3 linked regions of the Homo sapiens genome follow. The gene in region 2 interacts genetically with the main gene of each other region. Each region holds a gene or a part of one and is shown on either strand. Other genes may lie near its edges.

Region 1 (3,648 bases), on a different chromosome or scaffold from region 2:
GGGGTGGGGCTTCCAGGAGCACAGGAAGAAGCTTCTGCTGTGATGTGAGTAGAGGTCTGTGCAGGCTTTAGAAACTGGGGCTCCACTCGGCTGCTTGAGATGCCCTGTTACTAGCAGTCCTGGTGTGCTTGTTGCCGGGGTAGGCGCAACCTCGCACTGGAGGCCTGGCTTGAAGCCAGTGCATTTGCATCAGAGCCCAGGCAGGGACTGTCCATAGGAAGCCACATGGGGCAATGACTCATCCAAGGCCAGTCGGTGATAGAGACCTGAAGAGCAGGTTGAAAGTGGGAGAGGGAGGTCTGTGTCTGCAGCCCCATGCTTTATTTCTGCAGGAAGCCCTCCCGGGAACACCCAGCAGCCGCTGCCTGGCCTGCCACTGGCTTCCCCGCCAGGGGTCCCGCCCGTCTCCTTGCACACCCAGGTCCAGAGTGTGGTCCCCCAGCAGCTACTGACAGTCACAGCTGCCCCCACGGCAGCCCCTGTAACGACCACTGTGACCTCGCAGATCCAGCAGGTCCCGGTGAGGGGGTCTGGCCAGGGGTTGGGGAGGGGGCAGCCCCAGCCCAGACACACAGCTTACAGCCAAGCCTCTCCCACCCTCAGGTCCTGCTGCAGCCCCACTTCATCAAGGCAGACTCGCTGCTTCTGACAGCCATGAAGACAGACGGAGCCACTGTGAAGGCGGCAGGTCTCAGTCCCCTGGTCTCTGGCACCACTGTGCAGACAGGGCCTTTGCCGGTGGGTGACGTGGGCAGGGCATAAGGGAGTGGGGTCTACACACACACACACATGCCCACCTGGTAACATGTGCCTGGCCCTGCAGACCCTGGTGAGTGGCGGAACCATCTTGGCAACAGTCCCACTGGTCGTAGATGCGGAGAAGCTGCCTATCAACCGGCTCGCAGCTGGCAGCAAGGCCCCGGCCTCTGCCCAGAGCCGTGGAGAGAAGCGCACAGCCCACAACGCCATTGAGAAGCGCTACCGCTCCTCCATCAATGACAAAATCATTGAGCTCAAGGATCTGGTGGTGGGCACTGAGGCAAAGGTGTGGAGAGGCCTGCAGGGGCACAGACCGGGGTGTCCCTAGGAAGGAACAGATCAGGGGCAACTGGAAGGAAGAGAGGGAGTGAGACTGAGCCTGGACAAGCAGGGAATTGGAATTCAGCCTCCCCAGGCCTGGCCAGCCTCGTTTATTTAGTTAAACTGGTTTGCAGGCCTCTTCAATAAAGGTGGGGCTGTGCTAGGCATTGGGGATGCAGCAATGAACAAGACAGACAAAAATTGTCCCTCAAAGAAGAGCCGACCTTCTGGTGGGGGAGATGGACAGTAGGCAGGATGAATAAGTGCTCGAGACCACCACGTTTGGCTCGTTGCAGAGAAAGCAGGAAGAGGATGGTGAGGGTCCCCTGGTGGTAGCCAGGGAAGGCCTCCCTGAGATGGCGGCAGGCACAGCAGCAGCTAGCCAGACCCTGCTGTCTGCATCTTACATTCTAACCCTATGCCCGGCCTGGGAGGTGGGTGCTACTAGGCGAGGAACGGTTCAGGTAGAAGGAACAAGTGCAAAGGTCCTGAGGCAGTAATGTTGCAAAGCAGCTCCGCACCCCCTTGCTAGGGCTCTCCAACCCCACAACCCCCGACCTGACAGGCCACCTGTGCGCTCCCCCTCCCTCCCACACCGTGCAGCTGAATAAATCTGCTGTCTTGCGCAAGGCCATCGACTACATTCGCTTTCTGCAACACAGCAACCAGAAACTCAAGCAGGAGAACCTAAGTCTGCGCACTGCTGTCCACAAAAGCAGTGAGTCCTGGCTTTATTGAGCTCCAGTCTGGCCTCTTCTCTAGCCTTGCTCCACCTCCCGGCCCCACCCCATCCCTAGCCCCACCCCACCCTTGGTTCTGGCCCACCCTCTGCCCTGCCCACCTCACCCTTGGCTGTAGCCCTGCATTCAGCTCTAGTCCCTTGGTTACCTCTGGTCCTGAAAGAGACCTGGTGCCTCCCTTTGGCCCTAACCCAGCCCCATCAAAGCGTCCTGGGCTAGCTTTAGGAGCTACAGTAGTCCCTAGGCCTCCAAGGGCCTAGGCTCTGATTTGGGGTCACATATCCAGCCTTTACTCCTGGCTCTGTTCCTTTCGGCCCACAGAATCTCTGAAGGATCTGGTGTCGGCCTGTGGCAGTGGAGGGAACACAGACGTGCTCATGGAGGGCGTGAAGACTGAGGTGGAGGACACACTGACCCCACCCCCCTCGGATGCTGGCTCACCTTTCCAGAGCAGCCCCTTGTCCCTTGGCAGCAGGGGCAGTGGCAGCGGTGGCAGTGGCAGTGACTCGGAGCCTGACAGCCCAGTCTTTGAGGACAGCAAGGTTGGGCCCTGCCACGGTGCCCCCTTCCCCACTCCCAGCCATATCCTCTGAGCCTCATGACAGGGCCGGGAAGACCCTAACAGATCCTACCTCCCATTTCATAGACAGAATAACTGAGGCCTGGAGCCACGTGGGGTCCCACAGTAAGGTGGGCAGAATCCTGACCCCCCCCTTCCCAGCCCCATGCTCTCTGGGGTCCCTCCGATTCTGCCCTCACCACCCTGCCCAACCCCACCAGGCAAAGCCAGAGCAGCGGCCGTCTCTGCACAGCCGGGGCATGCTGGACCGCTCCCGCCTGGCCCTGTGCACGCTCGTCTTCCTCTGCCTGTCCTGCAACCCCTTGGCCTCCTTGCTGGGGGCCCGGGGGCTTCCCAGCCCCTCAGATACCACCAGCGTCTACCATAGCCCTGGGCGCAACGTGCTGGGCACCGAGAGCAGAGGTGGGACCGGCCAGCCTGGGCATCTTTGGGAGGGACACTCGGGGTGAGCCCCCAGGCTTGTGAACTTGGGGCTCTGGATTTCCTGGGAGCTGTGTCCCCAGCTTTCCCTCTGTCCATAGATGGCCCTGGCTGGGCCCAGTGGCTGCTGCCCCCAGTGGTCTGGCTGCTCAATGGGCTGTTGGTGCTCGTCTCCTTGGTGCTTCTCTTTGTCTACGGTGAGCCAGTCACACGGCCCCACTCAGGCCCCGCCGTGTACTTCTGGAGGCATCGCAAGCAGGCTGACCTGGACCTGGCCCGGGTAAGGGGCTGGCCCCGGCAGAGTGGGCAGGGCAGGGACCCCAGGCTGTGAAGGTGCTGGGTGTCAACCCTTGTTCCTGCTCCCTGTGCACACCATGAATCTGTCCCGTCCTCCCTGTGCCTAGCCACGCATCCGCAGACCCCCACCACCCCTCCAGAGCCTGCTGTGGACGGCTCTTCTGAGCTTTGGGGCAGCTGCTCTGACCTCACTTTTCTCACCTGGAAAACCCTCATCCACAGGGAGACTTTGCCCAGGCTGCCCAGCAGCTGTGGCTGGCCCTGCGGGCACTGGGCCGGCCCCTGCCCACCTCCCACCTGGACCTGGCTTGTAGCCTCCTCTGGAACCTCATCCGTCACCTGCTGCAGCGTCTCTGGGTGGGCCGCTGGCTGGCAGGCCGGGCAGGGGGCCTGCAGCAGGACTGTGCTCTGCGAGTGGATGCTAGCGCCAGCGCCCGAGACGCAGCCCTGGTCTACCATAAGCTGCACCAGCTGCACACCATGGGTAGGACTGAGCGTGGGGCGGGCTCCGAGGTGCTCCCTGCTGCCTGT
Region 2 (3,648 bases):
TTTTATATCCCCCCAAAGTCATTTAAGCCCTAGTGAAGAGAACGAAGAGCATGAGAGTAGAAGAGTGCTGCAGGGTAGAAAGACTGAGGGCTGTGGTGAGACGGGATCTGGGTTCTGGGCTATGACCTAGGCAAGGTTGGCAAACTCCAGCTCCCGGACCAAACCTGGGCTGCTGCCTGTCCTTGCCAAGTATTTTATTGGCAGAAAACCACGCCCATTTATTCACATGTTGTCTATCGCTGCCTTCACACTACAACAGCAGTTGAGTAAGTGCGATGGAGACCATATGGTTCACAAAGCCGAAAACATTTACCATCTGCTCCTTTATAAAAAAAAAGCTTACCAACCTCTGACTTACGCAAGTTACTCAACCATTGTAGGTCCCAGGTAACTCACTTGTAAAATGGAAATGTTGACAGAATTAGAGAATCCTATGTAAAGATCACAAACTGGCAGACTCAGGGCCAGATGTGGCTCCCTCAGACTGGCTCACCTACAAGATATGTTTTTCAAATGTGGATTACACGCCAACAGTTAAAAAATCAGGAGATTACACACACAAATCTGGAATTCCATCTTCTTTTTAAAAAATTCAAAACCTGCCACTACTGAGCCGAGTCCTCCCAGGCAACTACCAGCTGGAGCTGAGTATTCAAGGCAGCTGCTGGCCAGTTCCTCACCATCCCCCAGCCCCTGACCACTCATTTATCTTCACGTCGTTCTCTTGACCTCTGTAAGAACCTGAGTTTGTGAAGTTCTCATCAGGGCCTTATGGGAAGGAGCCAGCAAAGCACAATGGGAAGCTGGCCTGGAGAAAACACCTTTTTGCAGGGGGAGGAGGCTGCTGAAAGGGGGACCCACAGTTAGGCTGAGATCACACATCGATTCTTAGGTTCAATGCCAAAAGCAAGCAAAGAAACAAGCAGACACGAGCAAACTCACCCTTGTTGCTTAAACCTCTCAACATCTTCTCCAGGATTCCTGCCTCCGATCCAAAGAATCTGGCTACAACAAGAAAACAGCCTTTGATTAAGTTCGACAAAACAGCCCATGACTAACAGGGACACTGCATCCAATTCACCTGAACTCGGGGAAGTGCTTCGTGAAATGCGACAGGACCTCGTCTATTTGAATGGCCAGCTCTCGAGTGGGGGTGATGATTATGGCTCCAACCTACCCACATGGAAGGAAGGGACACAGTCAGCAGCACAAGGGACTCCCAGAGAGGAACTCATAGGCCCTCCGCCCTCTACCACACAAAGGAAAGTTCCAGAGAAACAGTAGTTCCCAGACTTTCTCAGCAGCATCTCTGAGCACATATCAACTACTTTGAATTACGGTTACTCGTCATCATATACTGCAGTTATGCTCTTTCAAGTCATGAAGAACAGTGAATTAGTCAATGCTGAACCACTGCTCACAGGGGAAACACAGGGTTAGGTTCCTGCCAGTCTTTGGGCATGACATTTTTGTCAACCAATCAATACATAAACCTATTTTATGTCTGTTTGTGCTTAAAAGACTCTATTTAACATATACTATTGATTCATTCTCATTGAACTCGTGGCCAACAGCACATTAACTCATGCCTTAGCTTGTGCTTCTCTAGCACAGGGATTTTCTCTGCACGTCATAACCTTCTTGCACCCAGGAACACTAGACTGCACTACATCACGGGGCCATTTCAAAAACCAAAATCACCAACATAAAGCACAAAAATGTGCAAAATGGCCGGGCGCGGTAGCTCACACCTGTAATCCCAGCACTTTGGGAGGCCGAGGCGGAAGGATCACTTGAGCCCAGGAGTTTAAGACCAGCCTGGGTAACATGTCAAAAAATACAAAAAATGACCCAGACATGATGGTCCACACCTGTAGTCCCAGCTACTTGGAAGGCTGAGGCAGGAGGACAGCTTAAGCCTGGGAGGTGGAGGTTGCAGTGAGATGAGATCACACCACTGCACTCCAGCCTGGGTGACAGAGCAAAACCCTGTCTCAGGGAAAAAAGAAAAAAAAAAAAAAGGTAAAAAACATGGCACTAAATAAATGACGAAAAGGACACTGTTTACACCTGAGCAGTGAAAACAAAGGCAGCTCTGCCCACGCCCATGACCACAGAAGCACCGAGGATCCACTGGGGTGTTCTAAATTTTAACGAGCAGGCAAATTCACAAATACAGAATCCACAAATAATGAGGATTAACTGTCTTTTTTTTTCAAGTTTCATTCATTCATTATTTGTAGAGATGAAGTCTCACTGTGTTGCCCAGGCTGGTCTCAAACTCCTGGACTCCAGTGATCCTCCAGACTCAGTCTCCCAAAGTGCTGGGATTACAGGCGTGAGCCACGGCTTCTGGCCTATTTTTTCACATTTGTAGCCAGCTTCTTAATCCAATGTGAACTCTCTGATGACTAGGTGAAAATAAATCACTTTTGTTGTCCTCACCTGACTCTTTTTTAACTTCTCTTCTCTTCTCAGAAGAATTTCCAGGATGGGGATGACAAAAGCGAGTGTTTTGCCACTACCTGTGACCTGCAAACAGAGAGTTTTGGTTTCCCTTTCTTCCTCAGAGTTCATCTGAGGGAGAACACGAGGACAGGCTGCACATACCCGAGGCACTCACCGCTTCTGCAGCGACATCTTTGTTTCGCATGAACAGAGGGATGGTTGCGGACTAAAGAGAGAGATTGCAAAGCACTGGTTAAAGGATGCCATCAATTCACAGGTGAGACCCGAAGCCCTAGGAACATAATGGGCAGCTAAGGTCACAGTGGGTCCCACCACAAAAGGGGCTCTGAGTAACCAAGTCACCATAGAGAAGTTGAATCAAACGTGGCAACTGTGTCTATGTGGACGGCGTGTGGGGACAGTGAGCTGAGCTGGGAGGTGGGAGTCCTGAATTCTAGCCCTGTCGCTCCTACTTTCCTCTCTGAACCAGGAAGGCGTTGAAGACATTGGGTTTTAGGGTCCCTTCCAGCTCTAGTATCACAGAATCATGATTCAAATAAACCCTCTCATTTTAAGCACTGTAGAGGTTGCCAGACTTTAAAAGAAACCTGGTTTTAGCAATCAAAAAAAACCTCAATTAGATTCAGGCCTTGGCCTGGAGGCTGCTCCCTCCAGGATTCAGCCCTGGTCCCCAGGGCCTGAGCTCACTTAAATCACAGCAGGTGTAATATTATTCTAACTGCCTCTACACAGTGATTGCTATCCCCCTGCTCAACCCCTGAGGGAACATTTGACAATGTAAGGAGACATTTTTGGTTGTCAAAACCCAGGGTGGGCCAGGCGTGGTGGCTCACATCTATAATCACAGCACTTTGGGAGGCCCAGGTGGGTAGATCCCTTAAGGCCAGGAATTCCAGACCAGCCAGGCAACACAGGGAGACTCTGTCTCTACAAAGAAAATTTTTTTAATTATGTGGGTGTGGTGGTGCATGCCTGCAGTCCCAGCTACTCAGGAGGCTAAGGTAAGAGGATCACCTAGGCCCAGGGAGGTCGAGGCTACTGTGAGCTGTGACTGTGCCACTGCACTCCAGCCCGGGTAACAGAGCAAAACCCTGCCTCAATAAATAAATAAATAAATAAAATACAACCAGGGTTGGGAGGTGATGTCCTCTGATGGACAGATTCCAGTGATGTTGTTAA
Region 3 (3,648 bases), on a different chromosome or scaffold from region 2:
CCCATGGAAATGACGTTCGCTAATGTCTTCCTCTCCTCTTTTTTTTTTTTTCTTTTTTTTTGAGATGGAGTCTCACTCTGTCGCCCAGGCTGGAGTGCAGTGGCACGATCTCGGCTCACTGCAAGCTCTGCCTCCTGGGTTCACTCCATACTCCTGCCTCAGCCTCCCCAGGAACTGGGACTACAGGTGCCCACCACCATGCCCGGCTAATTTTTTTTTTTTTTTTTTTTTTTTAGTAGAGATGGGGTTTCACTGTGCTAGCCAGGATGGTCTCCATCTCCTGACCTCGTGATCCGCCTGCCTCAGCCTCTCAAAGTGCTGAGATTACAGGCGTGAGCCACCGCTTCCTCTCCCCTTTCTATCTCCTGATCTCCCCACCCTTCTCCAGTGCGATTAAGGCCTGATTGTATAATCAAGGGACAATAAATACTGGAGGTGCTGCTCTGTTAATTGGTAGTCAGTAGGTATTACCATGATCTTGGCAGACTGAGGAATAGCCTATTCACTCCATCTCAGACCGGCTTCAGAATGATCACTTTTGGGATTTCCTCACACCTTCATCCCAGTTACCATCCTTGAACTTGCTCTGGTTTGTCAGCCTCTCTTTGAGTGTGTGGTACAGAAAGGAAATCCTCTTTCCTTGAGGACTCTAACCATGCAGAGCAAGACTGCACTTTTCTTGTGGTAACCTAAAGCCCTGCCAGCTCCATTATAGACACATTGTGCTTTTGACACTATTACACTAGTGTGCCACCAAATAGGCCCTCAGCGTGGCTCAGCCCTCCCCATATCCTCAGGCAGCTCTCTTGTCCATTTCCCTTTATGTCTTCCTCATATTCATTCCTCTCCTCAACCTCCTACCTTGACTTTTGCTCCACTAAGTTGCAGCCATTAATTAAGGCATCGCAGCTTCCTCTTCTATCCTTTACCAACTGATCTTTAGCTGACCCTATCCTTTTGCCTTTTATTCTAATTCTGTGAAAGAAATGGTGTTTTAAGACTAAGTCCTCTATTTGTGCTTGAGATCCCATCGCCTCCTTTGCCTCAAGGACTGGGTTCCATCATTTGTTCATTTTCTTTTCTGTTTCATCAACCCTTCTCATTTAAATATTCTCTGTTTACTCTCATTTTGGAAAAAACAAAAACCCTCCAATTAACCTATGCTGCACCCTGTCACACCTCTTTTACCCAGCCACCTTTCTTGGAAGAGTTATCTAGAGTTGCTTCCTGTACTTCCCTAAGTCATTGCTAAAATCCTGCTCTCGTCCCACCACTCCCCAAAGTCATCAGACCTCGACATTGCCAGAATACCTGACCACTTTTCCTTCTTATCTTTCTTGGCACATCTGACATTGCTGACCTTGCCCCTCACTTAGGAAAACCCAGTCCTACTTTGTATTATCTCTCTGGCCATTTGTCCCTCAATTTCCATTGTGGGCTCCTTTCTTCCCCTTTGTCCCTCACATGCCAATTTTTGCCAAGACTCTGCCCTCTACTATATTCTTTTCAACCGCAGCTTCAAACTTGTTTATATGCTCATGACCCCTGTTCTGTATCATAGCCCGAATCTCTCCTGAGTGCTACCCTCAAACTCAAACAAGTCTAAAACTAAGCTCCTCATCTTCCCTTTGAACCTGCCGTTCTTTCTCCATTCTTGAATCTTGCCAATTCCTCTCCTTTCATTTAGTCATCCAAAACAGAACCCTGAGAGTCATCTCAGACTCTTCCTCTGGTACTAGCCCTCCTTTCCATCTTCCAAGTCCAGGTAGTCATCAGAGTTCTATAGATTCGACTTTGTTGCTATCTCCTGACTCACATCTCCTCCATTTCCTCCCTTGCTCCCTCATTTCAGGCTCCCCTCCCTTTTTGCCTGTCTTTCTGCACAGCCTCCCAGCTGGTTGCCCTGCCTCAGCAGTCTGGTCCTCACTGCTGTGGATTGCCTTTACTAAAATAGAGATCTATGCAGAAATACAGTTGCATAGCTTTTCACATAAGGCTCTTCATGATATGGCCTTTGCCTGCTTTTATGGCATGGTCCATCTACTCTGCCCCATGTGCCTCTCCTTGCTGCCATACAGAACTCTATCAGGGGAACCTGCCCCCAATATTTCAAGGTATGTTCTTTCTATTTTCCATAAGTGTCAGCTGGCTGAGAAATAAAGAGAAAGAGTACAAAGAGAGGAATTTTACAGCTGGGCCTCTGGGGGTGACATCACATATTGGTAGGACTGTGATGCCGACCCGAGCTGCAAAACCAGCAGGTTTTTATTAAGGACTTCAAAAGGGGAGGGGGTGTGCGAACAGGGAGTGGGTCACAAAGATCACATGCTTCTGAGGAAACAGGACAAGGACAAAATCAGAAACTCCTGATAAGGGTCTATGTTCAGCAGTGTATGTATTGTCTTGATAAACATCTTAAACAACAGAAAACAGGGTTCGAGAGCAGAGAACTGGTCTGACCTCAAATTTACCAGGGTGGGGTTTCCCAATCCTAGTAAGCTTGAGGGTACTGCAGGAGAACAGGGCATATTTCAGTCCTTATCTCAACTGCGTAAGACAGACACTCCCAGAGCGGCCCTTTATAGACCCCCCCCCCCCCACCAGGAATGCATTCCTTTCCCAGGGTCTTAATTATTAATATTTCTTGCTAGGAAAAGAATTTAGTGATATCTTCCCTACTTGCACGTCTGTTTATAGGCTCTCTGCAAGAACAAAAATATGGCTGTATTCTGCCTGACCCTGTAGGCAGTCAGACCTTATGGTTGTCTTCCCTTGTTCCCTGAAAATCACTGTTATTCTGTTCTTTTTCAAGGTGCACTGATTTCATATTGTTTAAACACACATGTTTTACAATCAATTTGTACAGTTAACACAATAGTGGTCCTGAGGTGACTTACATTCTCAGCTTACAAAGATAACAGGATTAAGAGATTAAAGACAGGCATAAGAAATTATAAAAGTATTAATTTTTGGAACTGATAAATGTCCATATTAAAATGAAATCTTCACAATTTATGTTCAGAGATTGAAGTAAAGACAGGCATAAGAAATTATAAAAGTATTATTTGGGAACTGATATATGTCCATATTAAAATGAAATCTTCGCAATTTATGTTTCTCTGCTGCAGCTCCAGCCGGTCCCTCCGTTCAGGGTCCGTGACTTCCCGCAACAGAACTCATTTGTATTTTCTCAAACATACCATCCTGGTTTGTTCTTTCATTGTTTCAGTCATCAACAAGTATTTATTGGGCACCTGTGAGGTGCGAAGACTGGTGTTAGAAAAACAATGACGAATAGGGGAAAATGAGAAGCTGGCACGGTTCCTTTCTCATAGAATTTTTATTTATTCATTCTTTGTTTCAGTCATCAACAAGTATTTATTGGGCACCTATGAGGTGCTAAGTCAGGTGCTAGAAAAACAATGATGAATGGGGGAAAATGAGAAGCTGACATGGTTCCTTTCTCATAGAATTTTTATTCTACTGAGGAGGATAACTGCATACGTGCTATGAAGGTAAGGTAGTTGGTGCTCTTTGAGGACTAGAATACAGGAGGATCGACCTAATCCAGAGCTGAGGGAGTCAGGGAAGGCTTCCCTCAGAAGTGATGATTGAGCTGTGATTTGAAGTGAGCAAAGAAATTCACTA

The links.
Region 1: changes in DDX55 (region 2) and SREBF1 together harm fitness more than expected from each alone (negative genetic interaction), as found in Homo sapiens cells (one large-scale study listed by BioGRID).
Region 3: of DDX55 (region 2) and ATG7, changing one suppresses a phenotype caused by changing the other (phenotypic suppression), as found in Homo sapiens cells (one large-scale study listed by BioGRID).

The regions. Positions count from the first base shown.
Region 1 is NC_000017.11:17,816,410-17,820,057, reverse strand, and holds part of SREBF1 (sterol regulatory element-binding protein 1), read left to right. Parts: intron 1-332; coding exon 333-520; intron 521-603; coding exon 604-738; intron 739-823; coding exon 824-1,045; intron 1,046-1,683; coding exon 1,684-1,798; intron 1,799-2,141; coding exon 2,142-2,362; intron 2,363-2,466; coding exon of another isoform or gene 2,467-2,510; intron 2,511-2,600; coding exon 2,601-2,802; intron 2,803-2,921; coding exon 2,922-3,100; intron 3,101-3,339; coding exon 3,340-3,601; intron 3,602-3,648.
Region 2 is NC_000012.12:123,604,957-123,608,604, reverse strand, and holds part of DDX55 (ATP-dependent RNA helicase DDX55), read right to left. Parts: exon of another isoform or gene 2,675-3,648; coding exon 2,624-2,674; exon of another isoform or gene 2,578-2,623; coding exon of another isoform or gene 2,533-2,577; coding exon 2,446-2,532; intron 1,174-2,445; coding exon 1,082-1,173; intron 1,006-1,081; coding exon 943-1,005; intron 1-942. UniProt on the Homo sapiens protein: Probable ATP-binding RNA helicase. Has ATPase activity and is involved in the maturation of precursor large subunit rRNAs.
Region 3 is NC_000003.12:11,275,306-11,278,953, forward strand, and holds part of ATG7 (ubiquitin-like modifier-activating enzyme ATG7), read left to right. Parts: exon of another isoform or gene 1-3,515; intron 3,516-3,648. UniProt on the Homo sapiens protein: E1-like activating enzyme involved in the 2 ubiquitin-like systems required for cytoplasm to vacuole transport (Cvt) and autophagy.